Homo sapiens: one gene and its partner. The protein of the gene in region 1 interacts with the protein of each later gene in a biochemical or structural test. Each region holds a gene or a part of one and is shown on either strand. Other genes may lie near its edges.

Region 1 (4,126 bases):
GTAGCTGAGATTACAGGAGTGCACCACCACACCCGGCTAATTTTTATATTTTTAGTAGAGACTGGGTTTCACCATGTTGGCCAGGCTGGTCTTGACCTCCTGACCTCAAGTGATTCACCCGCCTCGGCCTCCCAAGGTGTTGGGATTACAGGCCTGAGCCACCGGGCACCCGGCGCATTTTATCTATTTAAAAAATGAATAACAAAAATCAGGATAACAGTTATACCACTGATATTTAACATGGCTCTGGATGTTCTTGTCAGTGCCTCCAGATGAGAGAAGTATATAAATATCAAAAATCGGTGCACACCACTGTGCCCAGCAAGGAAACATCTTTTAAAAATGGGAGACACCAGGCCATATTAGAGGCTCAATCCAATAGTGAGGGCGAGGCTGATGATACAAGAGAATAATTGAAGAAGCGATGCCCTTGAGAATGCTTGAAGCCCTGGGATGCCAAGTGCAAGTGGAGCGATTGCCCTTTAACCAGAAGAACACTTTGTCTGCTATTGAAAAAAGGTGGAAAGAGGTTATGAAGAATGGTGCAGATATTAGAAGTTTTGTAGAATTTTTTTTTTTGGAGACGGAGTCTCGCTCTACCCAGGCTGGAGTGCCGTTGCAGGATCTGCAATCTCCACCTCCCGTGTTCAATTTATTCTACCTCAGCCTCCTCCCGAGTAGCTGGGATTACAGACGCATGCCACCACGCCCGGCTAATTTTTGTATTTTTAGTAGAGATGGCGTTTCACCATGTTGGCCAGGCTGGTCTCAACTGCTGACCTCGTGATCCTCCCGCCTCAGCCTTCCGAAGTGCTGGGATTACAGGCGTGAGCCTCCATGCCTGGCCAGAAGTTTTGTAGATTTAGCCGTGGCATGATCAAGGAGTTCCTATCCGACAGTTTCTATTTTCTCAATAAGTTTTCTGAAAAAAAGGGGAGAGGCTGTTTCCCAGGGAGTGCACAATTCTGAAGGCTAACCAGGGGCGCCTGGTTTTGGGCAACTACAAATGTGGTTGTGTTCAAACTAAGCGTGTAAAGGTTGTGTTCAAACTAAGCTGGGCGCCTGTAGTCCCAGCTACTTGGGAGGCTGAAGCAGGAGAATGGTGTGAACCCGGGAGGTTTCGGACACGGGTTGGAGTGTCAAGAGAGAAGGCAGGAGCGTTTAGTCTGCTTCAGATATGAAGACTCCCTGTATTCCCAGTCCTAAGCAAGGGAGCAAAGGCAGGGGACAGAGCCCTGCTGCTCAGGTGAGGGGCCCCACGTGGAACGCGCCGGCGCGGGAGGGGCGGCCTGGCGCAGGTCATTTGGGACATCTGCGGGTTGGCGCATGCGCGCGAGGTGCGCAGGCTCGCGCCTTTTTCCCTTTTCTAAGCTTTCTGTGTTACCCCCGGTTCCGCTGTCTTTTCTGTCTACAGTTTGCGATCCCCGCGTCCAGGATGGAGCAGCTGAACGAACTGGAGCTGCTGATGGAGAAGAGTTTTTGGGAGGAGGCGGAGCTGCCGGCGGAGCTGTGAGCGGAGAGGGGGGAGGGTGTGGGAACAAAGCGGGAGATTTGAAAGAAGGAGCGGGAGAGGCTGCGTCCGCACCGCCTCAGACTGACCGGGCCCGGGGCCCAGGGACCCGGTGCAGCTCCCTGGGCACCCGACGAGCCTCCGGAGTCGGGGCCTGCCTCCCAAGGTGTTCTTTGGGGCCACATTCAGCCAGAGCCTGGACTCTCCCTCGCCGAGCAGTTCATTGTTTCCCTTGATTTCACCTCTCTCCCTAAGTTGAGGAGTTTCGGCCACTGGAATGTTTTTATAATAGGAAATTGCAACCGCCGTAGGCTTTTCTCGATGTTTAGTTGGATTAACTTATCCTTGGGGGATCTCTGCACCCTCAGCATGGTGTATATAAATGATCAGAGGAAGTTAACCACGGTCATAATGTGGAATTACTTTCAATATTATAGCAATAATGCTAATTAGCGTTGAGGGACTTTTGCGTTTGGGCTTTTGATCAGCAATACCTTTTGAGAAACATCTTTAAGGCATCATAGCCAATCTTGCGAAATTCATGGCCTGAGGTTAGGTGGACTACAGGAATAAAGCGTTTGCAAAATAATAGAACCTACGGTCAGGTAACAAAAGATAACTTGCAGTGTAATGTGAAAGGCGTTTGGTGTTATCACTGGAGAGGTAATGACTTTGGACCCTCCTTTGGTCCCTCACTGATGCCTCAGTCAAACGGGGAAGACTTAAGAGGTACTTAATAGGAGAAGGGCTGTTTTCTTGAGAGATTATTATTTTGCATAATTTTAGACAGCTTGGACCGATGGATGAAAGTATTGACAAATTGACTTACCCACTATAAATATAAGTAATAAAGTTCTGAATTACTCTGTAAAGGATTGAGCTAAATCGATAGGTATTAAGCCTGCTTTCTGTCCAGTGAGATTTTATCGAAAGATTTCCGGCATTACTTTAGCAGGTTGGACTAAATTATTTCTAAGTACAATTCTGTGGCTCATGATAGGACTTTCAGTGAACCACGGACAATACCCTTTTCCGTAACATAAGTCTCATATTTACAAAAAGGATCGTGTCCAAAACATCTCCTTTTACTTGTACTTTGGGAAGGCTTGCACCAGTGGTAGAAATTTCTTGTTTAATGTTGTCCAATTTATACTTTCCTTTCTTTTTTCTCCGCCAGAACCGGGGTCTTTTTCTGTCGCTCAGGAAGGGGTGCAGTAGCATGATCGTATCTCACTGCAGCCTCAAACTCCTGGGCTCAAGCAGTCCTTCCACCTCAGCCTCTTGAGTAGCTGGGACTACAGGTGTGCGCCATCATGCCTGGCTTCCAGTTTATTCTTAATCCTCATTGTAATGAGTGTCCCACAGAACGCTTTACAGAAATTAAAATGGAAAATCTCATATCATGAGCATGTTTGAAATGGCATTACTTCTGGGAAGTTTTTATAATAGGAATTCTTCTGTGTCTTTGCTCTCTTAATTTTACCTATTTTGTCTAAATGTCATTGCAATAAGCTTTTCAGAAGAAAGAAACCTAGAAAACTGGAAGATTGGTTTGTAGATAAAACATATTGGATGGCTTCTTATTTCATGGTTGTGCTAAAATAGTTTTGTATGTGTGTGCTTTAGATTTCAGAAGAAAGTGGTAGCTTCCTTTCCAAGAACAGTTCTGAGCACAGGAATGGATAACCGGTACCTGGTGTTGGCAGTCAATACTGTACAGAACAAAGAGGGAAACTGTGAAAAGCGCCTGGTCATCACTGCTTCACAGTCACTAGAAAATAAAGAACTATGCATCCTTAGGAATGACTGGTAATTTTTATGTGACTTTGAGCACCGATTTGAATCTTAAGGGTACTGTCGTAAAACTCATCAAATGGCTTCTGTGAATGTTACTATAATTTAATTGTTTAAAAGGGAGTAGGTTTGATCTTAGCCTAATTCTGCATGAAAATTGTATCTATTACTCCTGTATCTCAAGTCTCATATTCCAAAAATTGACTTTTGTTGTCATTTGAAAATCACGTGGGCCAGGCATGGTGGCTCACACCTGTAATCCCAGCACTTTGGGAGGCCAAGGCAGGCGGATCACCTCAGGTCAGGAGTTTGAGACCAGCCTGACCAACATGGAGAAACCCAGTCTCTACTAAAAATAAAAAAAAATTAGCTGGGTATGGTGGCACTTGCCTGTAATCCCAGGTACTCTGGAGGCTGAGGCAGGAGAATTGCTTGAACCTGGGAGGTGGAGGTTGTGGTGAGCTGAGATCATGCCATTGCACTCCAGCCTAGGCAACAAGAGCGAAACTTCATCTCAAAAAAAAGAAAAGAAAATCACGTACAAAGGACCTTATTAATGACTACTTCCTATTTCCCAGTACATTCTTTTTTTTTTTTTTTTTTTTGTATTTTTAGTAGAGACAGGGTTTCACCATGTTAGCCAGGATGGTCTCGAATCCCCTGACCTCGTGATCCGCCCACCTCGGCCTCCCAAAGTGGTGGGATTACAGGCGTGAGCCACCGCGCCCGGCCTTCCCAGTACATTCTAAGATTGCAGTTTAAACACATGTTAGTTTTAACTAAAAGCAAAATTAATTAAAACATATGGACATTCTTAGGCCT
Region 2 (4,028 bases), on another chromosome or scaffold:
AGTGGTAGAGCCAGAGATCTTACCCAGCCCACATCTTCAAACTTACTGCTCTTTCTACGCATATTTCCTCTGCTAGAGACAGGCTGAATCTTAATTTATGTTCAATTCTGTAGTGTAAGAATTTTGTTTCTTGGAGTTACTCATGATCAAATGTCGTAACAAAAGAACTTAGGTTCTCAGTGGAATTTATTAAAATATGATTTTTGTTTGTTTGTTTCTTGAGACAGAGTCTCACTCTGTCACCCAGGCTTAGCTCACTGCAACCTCCACCTCCCAGGTTCAAGTGATTCTCGTGCCTTAGCCACCAGAGTAGCTGGGATTACTGGCGTGTGCCACCACACCCGGCTAATTTTTGTATTTTTAGTAGAGATGGGGTTTCACCATGTTAGCCAGGCTGGCCTCGAACTTCTGGCCTCAAGTGATCTGCCCACCTTGGCCTCCCAAAGTGCTGGGATTACAGGCATGAGCCACTGCGCCTGGCAAAAGATGATTTTTTGTATAATAAAGTTATTTAAAGTACTTAGGAAAAATTTTTAAAATATGAATATTATGGTGTTGAGAAATACTTCCTATGTCATTTTCCTCTGCTTTTCCCCTTCTCTTTTGTCATCTAAATGAAGAGAAGCCAAAAGCTGTACCTTGTCTTAAATTTTGGTTAATCATTTGCTTCTAAGAGGTAGATAAGACCTTACTATTAATTCTGTATTAAAGAATTGTTATCACTCTTTATTTAGATTTTCAGATTCTACTTCAAAGACTCCTCCTCAAGAAGAATTACCTACTCGAGTGTCATCTCCTGTATTTGGAGCTACCTCTAGTATCAAAAGTGGTTTAGATTTGAATACAAGTTTGTCCCCTTCTCTTTTACAGCCTGGGAAAAAAAAACATCTGAAAACACTCCCTTTTAGCAACACTTGTATATCTAGATTAGAAAAAACTAGATCAAAATCTGAAGATAGTGCCCTTTTCACACATCACAGTCTTGGGTCTGAAGTGAACAAGATCATTATCCAGTCATCTAATAAACAGATACTTATAAATAAAAATATAAGTGAATCCCTAGGTGAACAGAATAGGACTGAGTACGGTAAAGATTCTAACACTGATAAACATTTGGAGCCCCTGAAATCATTGGGAGGCCGAACATCCAAAAGGAAGAAAACTGAGGAAGAAAGTGAACATGAAGTAAGCTGCCCCCAAGCTTCTTTTGATAAAGAAAATGCTTTCCCTTTTCCAATGGATAATCAGTTTTCCATGAATGGAGACTGTGTGATGGATAAACCTCTGGATCTGTCTGATCGATTTTCAGCTATTCAGCGTCAAGAGAAAAGCCAAGGAAGTGAGACTTCTAAAAACAAATTTAGGCAAGTGACTCTTTATGAGGCTTTGAAGACCATTCCAAAGGGCTTTTCCTCAAGCCGTAAGGCCTCAGATGGCAACTGCACGTTGCCCAAAGATTCCCCAGGGGAGCCCTGTTCACAGGAATGCATCATCCTTCAGCCCTTGAATAAATGCTCTCCAGACAATAAACCATCATTACAAATAAAAGAAGAAAATGCTGTCTTTAAAATTCCTCTACGTCCACGTGAAAGTTTGGAGACTGAGAATGTTTTAGATGACATAAAGGTTTGTGTTAAATGTTCAAGGATTTTGATTAAAATGATTGCTTGTGATTTCATTTAGAGCTAACAATTATTTCTGTTTTAGAGTGCTGGTTCTCATGAGCCAATAAAAATACAAACCAGGTCAGACCATGGAGGATGTGAACTTGCATCAGTTCTTCAGTTAAATCCATGTAGAACTGGTAAAATAAAGTCTCTACAAAACAACCAAGGTGTGTACACCATAAACAGGATCTCCACTTTTTTAATGACTTCAGATTGAATGTCATTATTTACTTTTTTAAATAGATTGAATTGTTTTGGAAAAAAACTTATTTCTTCCTTCAGGTGTCTGTATTTATAGGACGATTCTCACATTTTACCGGTGATTTTTCTGTTCTTTTTTTTTTTTTTTTTTTTTTTTGAGACGGAGTCTCGCTCTGTCGCCCAGGCTGGAGTGCAGTGGCGCGATCTCGGCTCACTGCAAGCTCCGCCTCCCGGGTTCACACCATTCTCCTGCCTCAGCCTCCCGAGTAGCTGGGACTATAGGCGCCCACCATGCCCGGCTAATTTTTTTTTTTTGTATTTTTAGTAGAGACGGGGTTTCACCACATTAGCCAGGATGGTCTAGATCTCCTGACATCGTGATCCACCAGCGTCGGCCTCCCAAAGTGCTGGGATTACAGGCGTGAGTCACTGCGCCCGGCCACTTATATACGTTTTTAAACTCCTTTAAAAACATTGTTGGCCCGGTACGGTGGCTCACACCTGTAATCCCAGCACTTTGGGAGGCCGACGCTGGTGGATCACGATGTCAGGAGATCGAGACCATCCTGGCTAACGTGGTGAAACCCCATCTCTACTAAAAACACAAAAAATAAGCCAGGCATGGTGGCAGGCGCCTGTAGTCCCAGCTATTCGGGAGGCTGAGGCAGGAGAATGGTGTGAACCCGGGAGGTGGAGCTTGCAGTGAGCCGAGATCGTGCCACTGCACTGCACTCCAGCCTGGGTGACAGAGCAAGACTCCGTCTCAAAAAAAAAAAAGAAAAAAAAAATTGTTTGCCTTAAGATATATAGGCATCTTTTCATAATTTTGCTATATTTTATTATTATTATTATTATTATTTGAGACAGGGTCCTACTCTGTCACCCAGACTGGAGTGCAGTGGCATGATCACGGCTCACTTGCAGCCTTGACCTCCCAGGCTCAGGTGGATCCTCCCATCTCAGCCCCCTGGATAGCTGGGACTACAAGCATGCACCACCACACCCAGCTGATTTTTTTATTTTTTGAAGTGACTGGGTTTCGCCTTGTTGCCCAGGTTGGTCTCGAACTACTGGACTCAAGCCATCTGCCTGCCTTGGCCTCCCAAAGTGCTGGGATTACAGGTGTGAACCACCCACGCCCAGCCTGCTATCTTTAAAAAAGTAATTTTTTTTTTCAGCCACCAAACATTTCTGTAGTTCAAGTGCAGTATTTTTTCTTGTATTCTTCATTGGCAAGTTATTCCTTTATTCTGGGTTTATTTTCCCTTTTTCCTGAAGCACAGTCATTAGTTGTTTTTCCAGTGAGTGTTTTAGTCTCTATATGAAAACATTTTTTTCACTATCATTCATGATTTTTTTTGAGCTTTTTGTTTTTATTTTTTTCATGGTTGCTCTAGGGATTACAGTATCTACCTACTTAGCCTTTTACAATCTACTTGGAGTTAATGTACTATTTCATGTTCTGTAACTACACTTTATGTAGTTCCTGTGTATTTTATCTACATATATTGAAAACCCCATCAATGTTATAGTTTTTAATTTTAAAAAATTTTAATTGAAATATAAATCACATACCATAAAAATCACCCATTAAAATGTTCAATTCAGTGGTTTGGTATACCCACAGAGTTGTACAACCATCACTGTAGTCTAGGTTTACAACATTTTCATCACTTTCCTTCCCCATATACCCTCTGCAGTCCTAGGCACCTTAAATCTACTTTCTCTCTTTGTAGATTTGCCTATTCTGGGAGTTTTCATATAAATGGAATCGTTTAATATATGATCTTTTGTTACTTCTTTCACTTGGCATAATGTTTTCAGTTATCTGTGTTACAGCATATATCAATATTTTATTTCTTTTTATTGGATAATTTTTTATTGCATAAGTATACCATATTTTAGGTATTTATTAGCTGACATTCAAGTTGTCACTTTTTTGCTATTATGAACAATGCTGCTATGAACATTTGTATACAGGTTTTTGTGTGGATGTATGTTTTCATTTTTCTTGGATTATACCTAGGAGTGGAATTGTTGGGCCATATGCCAATTCTACATTTTACCTTTTGAAAGACTGCCTGTTTTCCAAAGCAGCTACACCATTTCACATTCCCACCAGCAGTATGTGAGGGTCCCAGTATCTCCACCTCCTCACTA

Evidence for each region.
Region 2: the proteins of DNA2 (region 1) and RBBP8 form a complex in vitro, tested with the Homo sapiens proteins (one study listed by BioGRID).

Annotation. Positions count from the first base shown.
Region 1 is NC_000010.11:68,469,174-68,473,299, reverse strand, and holds the start of DNA2 (DNA replication ATP-dependent helicase/nuclease DNA2), read left to right. Parts: upstream 1-1,326; 5' UTR 1,327-1,414; coding exon of another isoform or gene 1,415-1,435; coding exon 1,436-1,509; intron 1,510-3,136; coding exon 3,137-3,319; intron 3,320-4,126. UniProt on the Homo sapiens protein: Key enzyme involved in DNA replication and DNA repair in nucleus and mitochondrion.
Region 2 is NC_000018.10:22,992,014-22,996,041, forward strand, and holds part of RBBP8 (DNA endonuclease RBBP8), read left to right. Parts: intron 1-734; coding exon 735-1,626; intron 1,627-1,707; coding exon 1,708-1,834; intron 1,835-4,028. UniProt on the Homo sapiens protein: Endonuclease that cooperates with the MRE11-RAD50-NBN (MRN) complex in DNA-end resection, the first step of double-strand break (DSB) repair through the homologous recombination (HR) pathway.